3 separate regions of the Homo sapiens genome follow, and all the other regions are linked to region 1. Evidence: fine-mapped expression QTL. A gene starts in region 1. Each other region holds a variant in brackets. All regions are shown on one strand. Distances are from middle to middle.

Region 1 (4,000 bases):
TTTTAAGGATAATTTGGCGAGTAGGAGCTCGGGAAGTGGGGAGTGCTGACTGGTTGGGTTGGAGATGGAATGATAGGGGGTTGAAGTGAGTTTTTCTTGCTGTCTTCTGTTCCTAGGTGGGATTGCAAAACTTGTTGAGCCAGATTACCGGTCTGGGTGAAAAAGCAGAGTGGCATTCTTCCTGGAGGAGCTGGCTGAAGATCTGTAGAGGGCCCATGTGCCACGTTCAGAGCACTGTTGGGCTGTGAGGTGCCAGGCATGCCCTGCCTCCTACGTGGGCCCCTATGGCCTGGCCTTGAAACCGCCACTGCAAAATTATAACCGAGACAATGAAAGAGATCTGACCTAACCAACTCCATCTTGCTTCTAACCTCCAAGCTGTCCTTGTTCATTCCTGAGCGTAGGCTGAACTAACCTTGGGAAGGAATGAGTTTATAGTTTAACTTCAAAACAAAAATAGCCCTTTCCCGGGAAAACAACAACAACAACAACAAAAAACAACCTCTTCTTGCCTGGGACCAGTTGGCCTTTGGAGGACTAACAAATTAGCTATAAGATTAGAAATTACAGTTTAGAGGCCATACAGCCTTTGGTTGCAAGAGTCTGAACGTCCCCCAAATTGTTCCTGGGAATAACATCACTGTTGTAAAACCTACCAACACCCAGACTGGTAATCTGGCTCAACTAGTTCTGCAATCCCATTCAGGAACAGAAGACAGCAAGAAAAACTCACTTCGGCCCCCTATCAGTCCATCTCCAACCCGACCAATCATGCACCTCCCACTTCCCGAGCTTCTACTCGCCAAATTATCCTTAAAAATTCCGATCCGTTTTTGGGGAGACCGATTTGGCTAATAAAACTCCCTTTCCAACACACCCGGCTCTGCGTGAATTACTCTCTCTCTATTGCAATTTCCGTCTTGATAAATCAGCTGTCTAGTCAGCGGGCTGTAACCTTGGGCGGTTACAGCCTGGCCTGTCCCATCCCATCCAATAGTTCCCATCTCTTCTCAGCTCTCTCTGTAGTTTCTCTTCCTCCGCCTGCCTTTTAAGTTAGTGTTTCCCAGGACAGAGGTGACTCAGTTGTATCCAGACCGCTCTGTGACTGAACACCCACTTTCTTTTCCTTTTCCAAAAAATATATGTAACATACATGTCAACTAGGAACAAAACAGTATCTCAGGAATCCACCATCCAGTTAAAAATGGACCCTTACCCTTACCGTGCCCCTGCAGAGACCCCAATACAGCGCATTTCCCTCATTCTTTTGCTTTTCTCAAGTTTTACCACGGCCTCGTGGCCACAAGTGACAAAAGAGACAAGTGGAGGCAGCTGAGCCGGCCTTTAGGTTTCTGTACACAGGGAGATTTCCCATGGCTGGCATTTATGGAAACAACCGCTGGTATGTGAAAAACAGGTCCGTCACCGCCGTCACGACGGCCAGAGATTATACCCGCCGAGATGCCCGCGGCCCAGGGCCTACAATTTCCTCCGGCCAGCTCCTTTGGCCGCGCAAGCGCAGTGGGGCCGGCGGGAAGCGTAGGCGTGTGACGTCATCAGGCGGCGCGGGCCAGCCAGGTGCACGTGACTAAGGCCTTGGGCGCGGCAGGTGGTAGCCTTCCCGCCCTTCTGGCCTCTCCATCCCCTGCTGCGGGGGACCGCGCAAGCGCAGTGAGTACTGCACGTTGTCGCGGGCCAGTAACGTCATCAGACGTGTGTGTGTCCCTGCGGCGCTAAGAAGGGGAGACTGAGGCTGAGGCTGGGGAACATCGGGCAGCATGAGCGGCTGCGGGCTCTTCCTGCGCACCACGGCTGCGGCTCGTGCCTGCCGGGGTCTGGTGGTCTCTACCGCGAACCGGCGGCTACTGCGCACCAGCCCGCCTGTACGAGCTTTCGCCAAAGAGCTTTTCCTAGGCAAAATCAAGAAGGTAACGCGAGCCCTGGGCGAACCCTTGCTGTCTGGCTCCCGCTTTTCACCCTCAGCTGCAAGACTGGTGTTGAACTTTGTGAGATTCCCCAAACCTGCCAGAGAGATACACCCTGCGGCCGAGGCGTGTTAACACTCCGGATTCCTGAGTTCCAGGAAAACCTTCCCAGAGAAAGGGTGAGACATTTCCAAGACGGGGGACCCTTGGAAATGTGGTGGTGACGTGTTCCAGCTAAATTTTGTCAGGGGAATTCGGAAAACTCTAGGCTAGGTAATTAACAAAGCAGCCTTCATCTCAGCTGGTCTGGTCTGGAAATGTGCGGGGCTTCCTCTCTGATTCCTAAACAGCTTACACCATGTCCCTCCTCAGTCACCTTCCAGCGCCCTGGGGCTTCCTTCCCCAGGTGAGCCCAGCGCCTCTCCCTGCCATTGAGGTTCCTCAGAAATCTGGCTCCAAGATGCTTCCCAAGGGTGGCACAACCCAGCCAATAGTAACAGTTTGGTTATAAAACACTCATTGTCTTCTTAGAGTTGGAAGACTTGGGTTTGGTCTTGGCTCGTTGACTTTGAAACTCAGTTGTTTTTTTTGAGACAGAGTCGCGCTCTTGTCGCCCAGGCTGGAGTGCTCACTGCAACCTCCCTCCTGGGTTCAAGCGATTCTCCTGCCTCAGCCTCCGGAGTAGCTGGGATTACAGGCGCCTGCCCGGCTTTTTTTTTTTTTGTATTTTTAGCAGAGACGGGGTTTCACCATGTTGGCCAAGCTGGTCTAGAACTGACCTCGGGTGATCCGCCCACCTCGGCCTCCCACAGTGCTGGGATTACAGGGGTGAGCCACCGCGCCCGGCCAAGACTCAGTTCTTTCAGCCTTAAAATGGAGATAGTGTTGTGTCTCCTTCACAGATGTGTTGTAGAGCCCCAGTGAGATAAACGGTGCATGGAGAGTCTTCTTAAACTGTAGAGTACTGTGCAGCAGAAGAGAGAGCTGGCTTCAACACTTAGTCTTGTGACCTTGGAGCTGACGGCTGCACCTCCCTGTGCCTCAGTGCATTCATCTACAAAATAGGAATAAACACATTTCTTGCTCTTTCCTTTGTATTTCATTTTATCTTCTAAGGAAACCAACAGTATACTTGCTATTTCGTCGAGGTGCCCTACTTTGAACTTGGCTGAATGTTGGCTGATCCTGTATCACAGAAGTTATTCCCTGGCTTCTCTTTGGAACGTTCCTCTGAGGTTGTCAGGCTGATACCTTTATAGCAAGCAACTTTACAGATGAAGAAGCTAAGACTCAGACTAAAAGCAGTTTGCCCAGCTAGAAAGTGCGGAGCTATGTCTTGAACATATTGGAAAACCTTTTACCCAGGACCTGGGGCAGTGTGGTGCTCTATCCTGGGACTTCCTGCTATCCAGCAGCATGGTGAAGAAAGAACACAGATCTTTCAGATCTGTTTCCATCTTTAAACCTCTGGCACTACCTGCCCTGCCCTGCCTTTACTCTCAGCTGTCAGCTTTGCTTCCCATTCCACTGGGAAAATCCATGCAGTCGGATGAGAAGTTCACAGGCACAGTTACCCCCTCCCGCTGCATATGTGCCGGTATTATCTACATTCTGTTACTGTGAACTGTCTGCTCCTGGCAAAACCAACCTCTCATTAGACTCCAGGTCTTCTCACCTACTCAAGGGTAATTCTTTCCTTTCTCTGCATCATTAACTGTTCTCTCTACTGGATCTTGAGCCCTTACCATTCAGGCATTTGTCCCTAATGGCCATAGAAGTCAGTAATGACCTCTCTGTTATCAAATTGTGTGATCTGTTCTCAGACCTCATCCTACTTGACCCATCATTGGCATCTGACACCGTTCATCCTTCCACCCTGTTGACGCACTTTCGTCTCTGGTTTCTGAATCACTGTTCTCGCCATTCTCTGAATGTTCTAAATACTTCACTGGCTGATACTTCTCTGTGTCCATTGCTGGTTCTTATTCAGCTCCTTGACCGCTAAACAGTGACCAGTGTTTCCAACTAGCCAAGTTGGAATTTACTAAGGCTGGGTCTCGTTTCATCTACAGCCA
Region 2 (4,237 bases), 23 kb after region 1:
TGAGACCAGTGGTCCCAGTCTACCCTAAGGCTTCAGGAAATGCTGTTCTTTCCCTCACTTTGCTTGTTCTGGCTCTTTATATGCCTGGTTCTTTTCATTCTTAAACTTCTGCTAAATGTCACCTTAGAAAAGTCTGACATAGTCCTTAATAAAAATATTATTATCCACCCCCTTGCCAACCTCCATTTCTCTTTATCGTGATGCCCTATTTATTTCATCCATAGCACTGATCACAATATTACATTGTTTTGTTTATAGCTTTTGTCTCCCAAATCAAAGTATGAGCCTCCACAAAGATAGGAACTTTGTCTTTCTATACTGTCCTACCAAACATTGGATGGATGGATGGATGGATGGATGGATGAATTGCCTGCTTGCAGGTCAGATGCAGAGTGGTTTGCATTGTCAGATGATATCTTAAATTTCATGTGTTTCAGCTTGTGAAGTCCATTTTGAAAACACCAAGATACCTGTGGAAAACATCCTTGGAGAGGTCGGAGATGGGTTTAAGGTGAGTTGCCAGCCACAGCCCCTTGTACCAGGTAGTGTCATGAGTGCAGTTTGTCGCCCCCAGCTTTTGCCCTATCCCTGCTCGTAGCAGAGTAGCCTGTGCATGGCAGGTGACTTTGCATGGTTATCTGTTGGGAAATTGGCAAAATGGACACTGGAAAATTGGCTGGCTCCTAGAAGAAGTGTATGGTAAGGATTAGGAATTTCCCTTCACCTCTGAGGCCCTATTCGCCTCGAGCGGAGGCTAAGATTCCCTTCTGCAGTGGGTATGAGAAAGCAGCCTGTGGGCTCTGGTGAATCTCAAGCTCTGTGTACCACAACCCTGGTCTGCATCGCTGCCCTACTCTTTTCTTTTTGGACTAAGACTTATTTTTATCAAGAGATGATTCATATGACAAAGGACTCACCATTTTAAAATATTATTTCAGTGGTTTTTAGTATATTCACTATGTTGTTCAAATATCTCACACAGAACATTTCCTCACCCCAAAAAGAAATGTTGTACCATCCAGTATGACCCTTACCCCATCCCTTGGCTGCTACTCTTTTACTTTATGTCCCTATGGATTTGCCTGTTTGGAACATTTCATAAAAATGCAGTCATATACAAGATCCAGTCTTTGGTGACAGGCTTCTCTCACATTGCGTGATGTTTTCAAGGTTCATCTCTCTCATAGCATGAATGAGTAATTCATTCCTTTTATGGCTGAATTCTCTTCTGTTGAGTGGAGATACCACATTTTGTTCATCCATTCACCAGCTGATGGACATTGGGGTTGTTACCGCTTTTGGCTGCTATCAGTAATGCTACTTATGAACATTCATGTCAAGTTTTAATGTGGAAATAACGTTTTCAGGTATTTTGATTTATGCCTAAAAGTAGAATTTCTGTTTGGCCCAAGTTGGTCTTGAACTCCTGGGCTCAAGCGATCCTCTTGCCTTGGCCTTCCAAAATGCTGGTACTACAGGTGGGAGCCACCATGCCCAGCTCTGGCATGGTCCTTTGGAATAACGTTCAGTGGTCTTGTGTGTGGGGATGTTGGTAGAGCTGCAACAGTGACTGAACCACCTTGTTCTGAGGCATTAGGATGGTGCTTTCTCCCAGCTTGAGGGAAGGCAAGCTGATCCACCTGGCCTGGTTTCGTTGCGGCCTCCTCCCTCTGCCTCCTTC[A/G]GGGCCCCTGGGCTCTCCCTGTTCTCCCTGCAGGTGGCCATGAACATCCTCAACAGCGGCCGGTTCAGCATGGGCAGCGTCGTGGCTGGGCTGCTCAAGAGATTGATTGGTAGGTAAGTTAGGGACAAGGCCCTTTGTGCCCCACCCCCTGCTGCCCCGGCTCCAACCCTGGAGGCTCTGCCATTCCCCCGGCCCCTTCCAGGCCAGTGCTGAACCAGGCTACCAGCCTGAGCTCAGTCCCTGGGCTTTTGTGGAGACCAGAGGGTCTCCTCAGCCTGCCCCTGAGGTTTGTTGTCTTCCGCATTCCTCTGTTTCACCTCCACCCGGGTGATGCTGACTGGGGGACAGGCTTTCTGTCTGGGGTGGGGATGGGGATTGGGGAATGGGCTGTCTGTCTGGAGTGAGAGGTTGCCACTGACCAGTAGGAGCAGAGCTGCTTGGTGAGCACACACCAAGAACCAGGCTTCCAGGATACACGGCCTCTGGTTCCCAAGGTCCGTGCCTCCTGGGTGACTCTGCATGGTGGGTGGGGAGTAGGATCGGGTTTGGAACCCAGGTCCCTGGGCCCCTGGATCTTACCTTTGTTCTATTCTGTCAGAATACCCCAAACCTCCATTTTCCTTTGCCAGTGAACTTAGAACAGCCCTGTAACCATCCTGGTTGTGGTGGAAGCATTTGCGGGGAAATGGGGGTACCCGGGGCAGCACACCCCTAAGTGCTTTATGAAGCTCCTCTTTGGTGCCAGGCTCTGGGCCTGTTTTGGCTTCCCTCCATTTTAGAGATGAGAAGACAGAGACTCAGAGAGGGCAAGCGATTTGTTCCAGACTGTGCTCCTGGACCCAAAATGAAAGCTGTCAGGCTCCAGGCTCAGGGCTCTTCTTACTCAGGCACAAGGCCTCTGGGGAGCTCCTCTGCTGGGGCTCTGAGTGGGGCTCGGCCCTCTACACCTCCTGAGTGCACCACACCTGGGAGAGCCTGTGGAGGACATGGCTATGGCGGGGCGGGGGTGCTTCTGCCTGGGAGAGGCGCCATGTCACTCTTGGGCCCTTAGAGCTCAGCACTTTGTCACAGCCACACGCCTGGAAGCCCCAGCCTGAGTATTCAAGCCAGGCGGCCCCACCTGCTTTGGTCACTGCACGGGGTGTGAGCCTGCACCACCTCTGTCTGGGGCCTCTGTGCCTGGCTTTGTGCGAGGCGCCCTCCCCCTTCCACCTGGTTGCATCTTCACAGCGACTCTGAGGTGGGGGTGGTGTTCAGGGAGGTGTCGCACTCGGCCTGAGGCACAGCCTGTAAGAACCATTGCCAGGATTCAAGTCTGTATCTGATGCCAAACTCTGTGTGTGGGTGCCATGAGGAGGGGTGGTTCTCCTCTGACCCACGGGTGCTGGCAAGTGGGGGTGCCAGCTTCTGGGGTATTTGACCTCAGCAGACACGCTTCTCACAGTGCCCACCTGTGGGAAGGGTAAGGATGATGGCCATAGGAAATCATGTTTGAACCACAGAAATATTCCAGTTCATTCTAATAACTCTGCTCTTCCTCAGAAATGACTGCTGAGTACGCCTGCACAAGGAAACAGTTTAACAAGAGGCTCAGTGAATTTGGATTGATTCAGGTACCAATGGTTGAGTACTGTATTTGTGCATTTCACTGTGTGACATGAACGGTGTGTTCTTTTGATGTCTCTGTACTGGTGACTTCTGTGGTGATTTGGGAAGAAGACTAGTTAAGGCTTTATTTGACACGGGTCACTGGGCTTGCTTCTCTTGGGCATTGAGGCTTCTGACTTAATTACTTTCTCTCCTGTTTCACAGATTTGGCTCTCAGCACATGCAAATTGTTTCTTGTGTTTTTTCTGAACACTCCAGGAGAAATTTGCACTGATGGCTCAGAAGGCTTACGTCATGGAGAGTATGACCTACCTCACAGCAGGGATGCTGGACCAACCTGGCTTTCCCGACTGCTCCATCGAGGCAGCCATGGTGAAGGTAACCCTGGCATAGCCAGAGAGCTGGCGCTGGAGGGAGGCTTGGGAAATCTCCCTCACTGTGACCTTTCAAGCCCATGCTGTTGCCTGTCATCTTCCTCCTGTCATTGATCCAGTATTTATGATGCACTTGCCCTGTGTAGCACTCCAGGGATAGGCAGGCAGCGGGGAGCAGCAGTAGGGAAGTGTCCAGTGGGCCAGTGGATCAGTAGTTTATAGCAGAAGGAGACCGTTATGATAATATCCTTTTAGAGTAATAACATTGCATCTGGCTTGTGTGAGAAAGACTTCTTTTTTCCTTAGTTTATGGCCTTCCTACTTTCTGGTATCAAAACTTTATCTTAAAAACTAAGCATATGGCAGGGCGCGGTGGCTCACACCTGTAATCCCAGCACTTTGGGGGGCCGAGGTGGATGGATCACCTGAGGTCTGGAGTTCGAGACCAGCCTGGCCAACATGGTAAAACCCCATCTCTACTAAAAACACAAAAAATTAGCCGGGCATAGTGGCGGGCACCTGTAACCCCAGCTACTTGGGAAGCTGAGGCAAGAGAATCACTTGAACCCGGTGG
Region 3 (4,237 bases), 27 kb before region 1:
ATGCTAAGATTTGATCATTCCATGGTGCACACATCTATCTAATCCTCACATTATATCCCATAAATGAATACAAGCATAATTTTCCAATTAAAAATAATAATTAAAAAATAATAAACGGCTAGGTGCCATTGCTCACGCCTGTAATCCCAGCACTTTGGGAGGCCGAGGCGGGCGGATCACCAGGTCAGGAGATTGAGACCATCCTGGCTAATATGATGAAACCTCGTCTCTACTGAAAATACAAAAAATTAGCCGGGCGTGGTGGCAGGTGCCTGTAGTCCCAGCTACTTGGGAGGCTGAGGCAGGAGAATGGCGTGAACCCGGGAGGCAGAGCTTGCAGTGAGCAGAGATTGCGCCACTGCACTCCAGCCTAGGCGAGAGAGTGAGACTCCATCTCAAAATAATAATGATAATAATAATGAACATATGACTCAGAGACATTTTCTAAAAACAAAAAAAGAAACCAACAAAAGCATAATAAATAAAATAAAGTGCAGAAAAGGCAGCTTGCCCCCCACCCTCCGCTTGGTTTGTGTCTGGGCCGCAGCTGTCCCCTGGGTTTACTGGAGCCACTGTATTTCTCCATGCACAGTGGGTCTTTGGGGCCAGGAGGAAGCAAAATGTTTTTGAAGACAAATCTAGTGGCTCCCTGGCAGCCCTGGCTCTCTTCACAGGGAGAGGCTGAGGTCACACCATCTGATGCCCAGTGGAGAGGGTGCTGGCTTCCCGGGCTGTTCCCTGGGGACAGGTGACTCCTCCTGGGTCTCCCACATGGACAGAACTGACGTCCTGGGATGTTCCCTGGGGGCAGTTGACTCCTGGGCCGCTCCCACTGCTGCTGGTGCTCTGGATGGAGGGGGAGGCCACAGGGCCACACTCGGAGATGTGCTGGTATTGGGTCACATCACCTCCAGGCCCAGAAGGGGACAAGCAGGCAAGGTGGCTTCTCTGGGCATCTTCTGCCCTGGCCCTGGTCCTCCTTGGGTTGCTGGATTTCTGAAGTAAGGGTGGGAAAGGCCACAGTCAAGACCTTTTTCACCAAACATTCCAGCCCTTGACTCCCCTTTGGTTGGACAGAAAAGTTGGACTTAACTTTGGGGGATGGGGAAGGTCAGTGGGATCCCCAGGATTAGGTAGGTGGCCATGGAATAATTATATATATATTTTTTCCTACTGGGGATTCCTTGATGTGCCTAGAATGTCACGGCTACCAAGAGTCAGGTTGTTAGGGGGCCCAGGTGACTGGGGAGCAGCTCTATGTGTGGCCCAAGGGTTCCCTGGCCAGCATTGACCCAGGGGTCCCGCATCAGCTGGTCCTCTGTGGGTCATTCTCTGGGGTCAAGGATCAGAAATTTCTTGATAAATATTTCAATTCGGAAGGAATATAGACAGTACATATTTTCCTTGAGTATGTTTTTTTGAGGCTGAGAAGTTCTGCCTGCCAAATGGCAGGGCCCTGGCCCCATGTGGTAGACGGGAGAGCCAAGACCCACACGACCACTGCAGGGCTGTGATACTCGTGGCCCAGGAAGAGTTCTGGGGCAGCTTAAGGGGAGTCCCACCAAAGGCGCTCAGCTTCTGGCCTTGGGAATATGTGGTGCTGAAGCCAAAGTCAGCTCTTTTCATGTTGTGCTCTTCATGCAGGAGTCCTGCCACCCAGGTCCTGGCGGCTGACTTTGGTGGCAGTACTACAGGGCAGATAGTATTTGCAGAAACATGGCTTGAGCCTCCTCCTTCTCCATGTGGCCAGGCTGGAGTGTTTGGTGGAAAAGGTCTTCACTATGAGTATCACCATAGCTCAGTATGGGATGTCTGAGGTTTCAATGACATGATATGGCTTTATTATGATGGGACACTCAGGGCCTTCATGACGTCTACCTTTCTGTGTAGACTCAGAAGGCTGGGGGAGCCCCTAGTTATAGATTTTATTTTTACAGCCACCTGAGTCCCAGTGAGTTCGTGCTGGGTCAACTTCACCTCACCCAGGCTTCCCTGGGCCAATGGTCTTGAGGACTGTGGCATTTTTTTTTTTTTTTTTTGAGACGGAGTCTCGCTGTCGCCCAGGCTGGAGTGCAGTGGCTCGATCTCGGCTCACTGTAGGCTCTGCCCCCGGGGGTTCACGCCATTCTCCTGCCTCAGCCTCCCGCGCAGCTGGGACTACAGGCGCCTGCCACCTCGTCCAGCTAATTTTTTGTATTTTTAGTAGAGACGGGGTTTCACCATGTTAGCCAGGATGGTCTCGATCTCCTGACCTCGTGATCCGCCCGCCTCGGCCTCCCAAAGTGCTGGGATTACAGGCATGAGCCACC[G/A]CGCCCGGCCGAACTGTGGCATTTTTAAGGGCCTCCTCAATGGTGGAAGCCAGACCTGGAGAAGGTGCCTTCTCACAGGGCCGGCACTTCCAGAGGGGAGTGGCACCGGGGCGGGGGCACAGACTCTGAGGGGCCCTTGGGGAGCTCAAGCAAGGCCCACAAGATCCCCCTCTCAGGTTGCAAATTGGCATTAAGTTGGGGAGATTCAGTATTCATACCTGGGAGACACTTGCCTTCAAAGTGAAAGGAAATCCTGGGGAGGTTTTGGTGCTCCGGAAGGCAGGCAGACAGTGGGGCTGCAGCCAGGCCCTCTCCTCTGCATGAGGCTTTATGGGGCCTCAGCGTCTCCCACAATGATGGGGTCCCCCTGAGCTCCTCTTTTCAGTGTTCCCACATGAGCCTGAGTGTGGGGGACTTTCTGAGCCATTGCCCTCTGACTTCCCCTCTGTGGGCTGGGGAGGAGCTGTGAGGAGCTTCAAGGTGTGGGGTCGGGGCCCTTGGGCAGCCATCTTGGGGCACCCGAGCCCCAGCCCTCGGGAGCCCAGGTGCAGGCTCTGCCTCCACCTCTGAACGGCTGAATGGCGTGTTCAGCTGCTGTGGGTGGCAAGCAGGGAGGGCCGTGACAAGGTCTCCATTCCAGGCTGATGTTCCAGATCTGCAGGGGTGAGTATCAGGGAGGCCCGGGGTAATCACCCTGCCCAGTGGTGGCCTCTGCCATGGGCACACAGACTCCAGGCCAGGGAAGAGACACAGCAGCAACCTTGGAGGAGGGGCCTCTGCCCACCTGTGTGACAGCCACCAGGGGCTCCTGGCTTCACAGCCTTGCTGGGGAGAGATGGGAAACTGAGGCCTGGGGACCCTCAGCTGCCTGAGGTGCAGCTAGACTCAGATCCACCTGAGGCTGCCCAGTCCACCTCTTCCTTACTTCCTCCTTCCAAGAATATGGGCACAGTGGTGAGAACTTGGAGATAAGAGATCGGGACCAGTCCCAGCTGGAACCACTGCCCCACTGCTCAGCCTCTGGCAGCCACTCCTCTCTGGCCTGAGTGTCCTCTTAGTTCAATGGGCATCTCTAGGTCCCTGTGGTACCTTCCTTGTCACAGGCACATGAGGGGTCAACAGGATCATCACCCAGCACTGTTCACAGACACAGACTGAGGCTGGATCCTCGGAATCAGAGCTGGAGGGGGCCCTTTTGTGCAGATGGGGAAACTGAGCCTTGGACTGACTGTTGCGGGAATCAGGAGACTGGAGAGACCAATGGGTGAAACAGGAGGATTTTATTTAGGTGGCCACCGGCCTAGTGGGTTAATATTCAGAGGCTGATAAATGAACAAAGGCCAGGCTTAACTTTTATTCAGGCAACTGAAGGGGAGTGGCTAGCCAGTGGCACAAAACTTGCAGGGTGGGGAAAGCAAGCTTACAGAAGCAGAACAAAGGCAGTTAACTGTGACAGGTTTTGCAATTCAGGCATGTCTTGTGACCTTTGCCATCCTGCACAGATGGGAAAACAGGAACTTATAAAATCCTTGCAAACTTGCAGAAATAGTTACAAAAATAGTTACAAGCGCAGAACAAAGAATAATGGCATTGGGAGAGAATTCCAGGGGGAGACGGATAAGAACTTGTTTTTCTCATCCCTATTCTTGGAATCCATTTCTTTGGGGCCCCTGCCTGGCCTTGCAGATAATGTTATCATAGCTCCAACTGGACTTGTTTTCCCTTTACTTGTTTTTCTTATATTTCCTGCTTAATTCTCCCCTTTGATGCTGTTTATAAATAAAGTTTAATAGAAAGCATTATCATCAGAATTTAATTCTCCATGAGGAGTTAGTCCTTTATTTGGCAAAGGTTGATATTTGATTAATGCCATTAGTTGGGTGGTGGTTTACCTGGTTACAAGAACCTCTATGGCTGATTGGATGTTT

Evidence for each region.
Region 2: its variant is fine-mapped to the expression of ACAD9 in whole blood (TOPMed, PIP above 0.99). The same link has a PIP of 0.9 or more in blood mononuclear cells.
Region 3: its variant is fine-mapped to the expression of ACAD9 in whole blood (TOPMed, PIP above 0.99). The same link has a PIP of 0.9 or more in spleen, stomach and tibial artery.

The regions. Positions count from the first base shown.
Region 1 is chr3:128,877,914-128,881,913 of GRCh38, forward strand. It overlaps ACAD9 (acyl-CoA dehydrogenase family member 9), which reads left to right and starts at 1,707. Exons shown (of 18, transcript NM_014049.5): 1 at 1,707-1,928. The coding sequence starts at 1,779. It overlaps ACAD9-DT (ACAD9 divergent transcript), which reads right to left and starts at 1,523. Exons shown (of 3, transcript NR_186174.1): 1 at 1,223-1,523. RefSeq lists enhancers at 577-1,428, 1,284-1,833, 1,429-2,281, 1,894-1,973, 2,282-3,133.
Region 2 is chr3:128,900,839-128,905,075 of GRCh38, forward strand. It overlaps ACAD9 (acyl-CoA dehydrogenase family member 9), which reads left to right. Exons shown (of 18, transcript NM_014049.5): 8 at 438-511; 9 at 1,715-1,790; 10 at 3,224-3,294; 11 at 3,548-3,667. Among named protein-coding and RNA genes, the nearest start is that of ACAD9, 23 kb to the left of the region's middle. RefSeq lists an enhancer at 1,256-2,455. The variant A/G (reference allele first, on the strand shown) is at 1,682.
Region 3 is chr3:128,850,986-128,855,222 of GRCh38, forward strand. It overlaps the pseudogene MARK2P6. Among named protein-coding and RNA genes, the nearest start is that of MIR12124, 6.3 kb to the left of the region's middle. The variant G/A (reference allele first, on the strand shown) is at 2,310.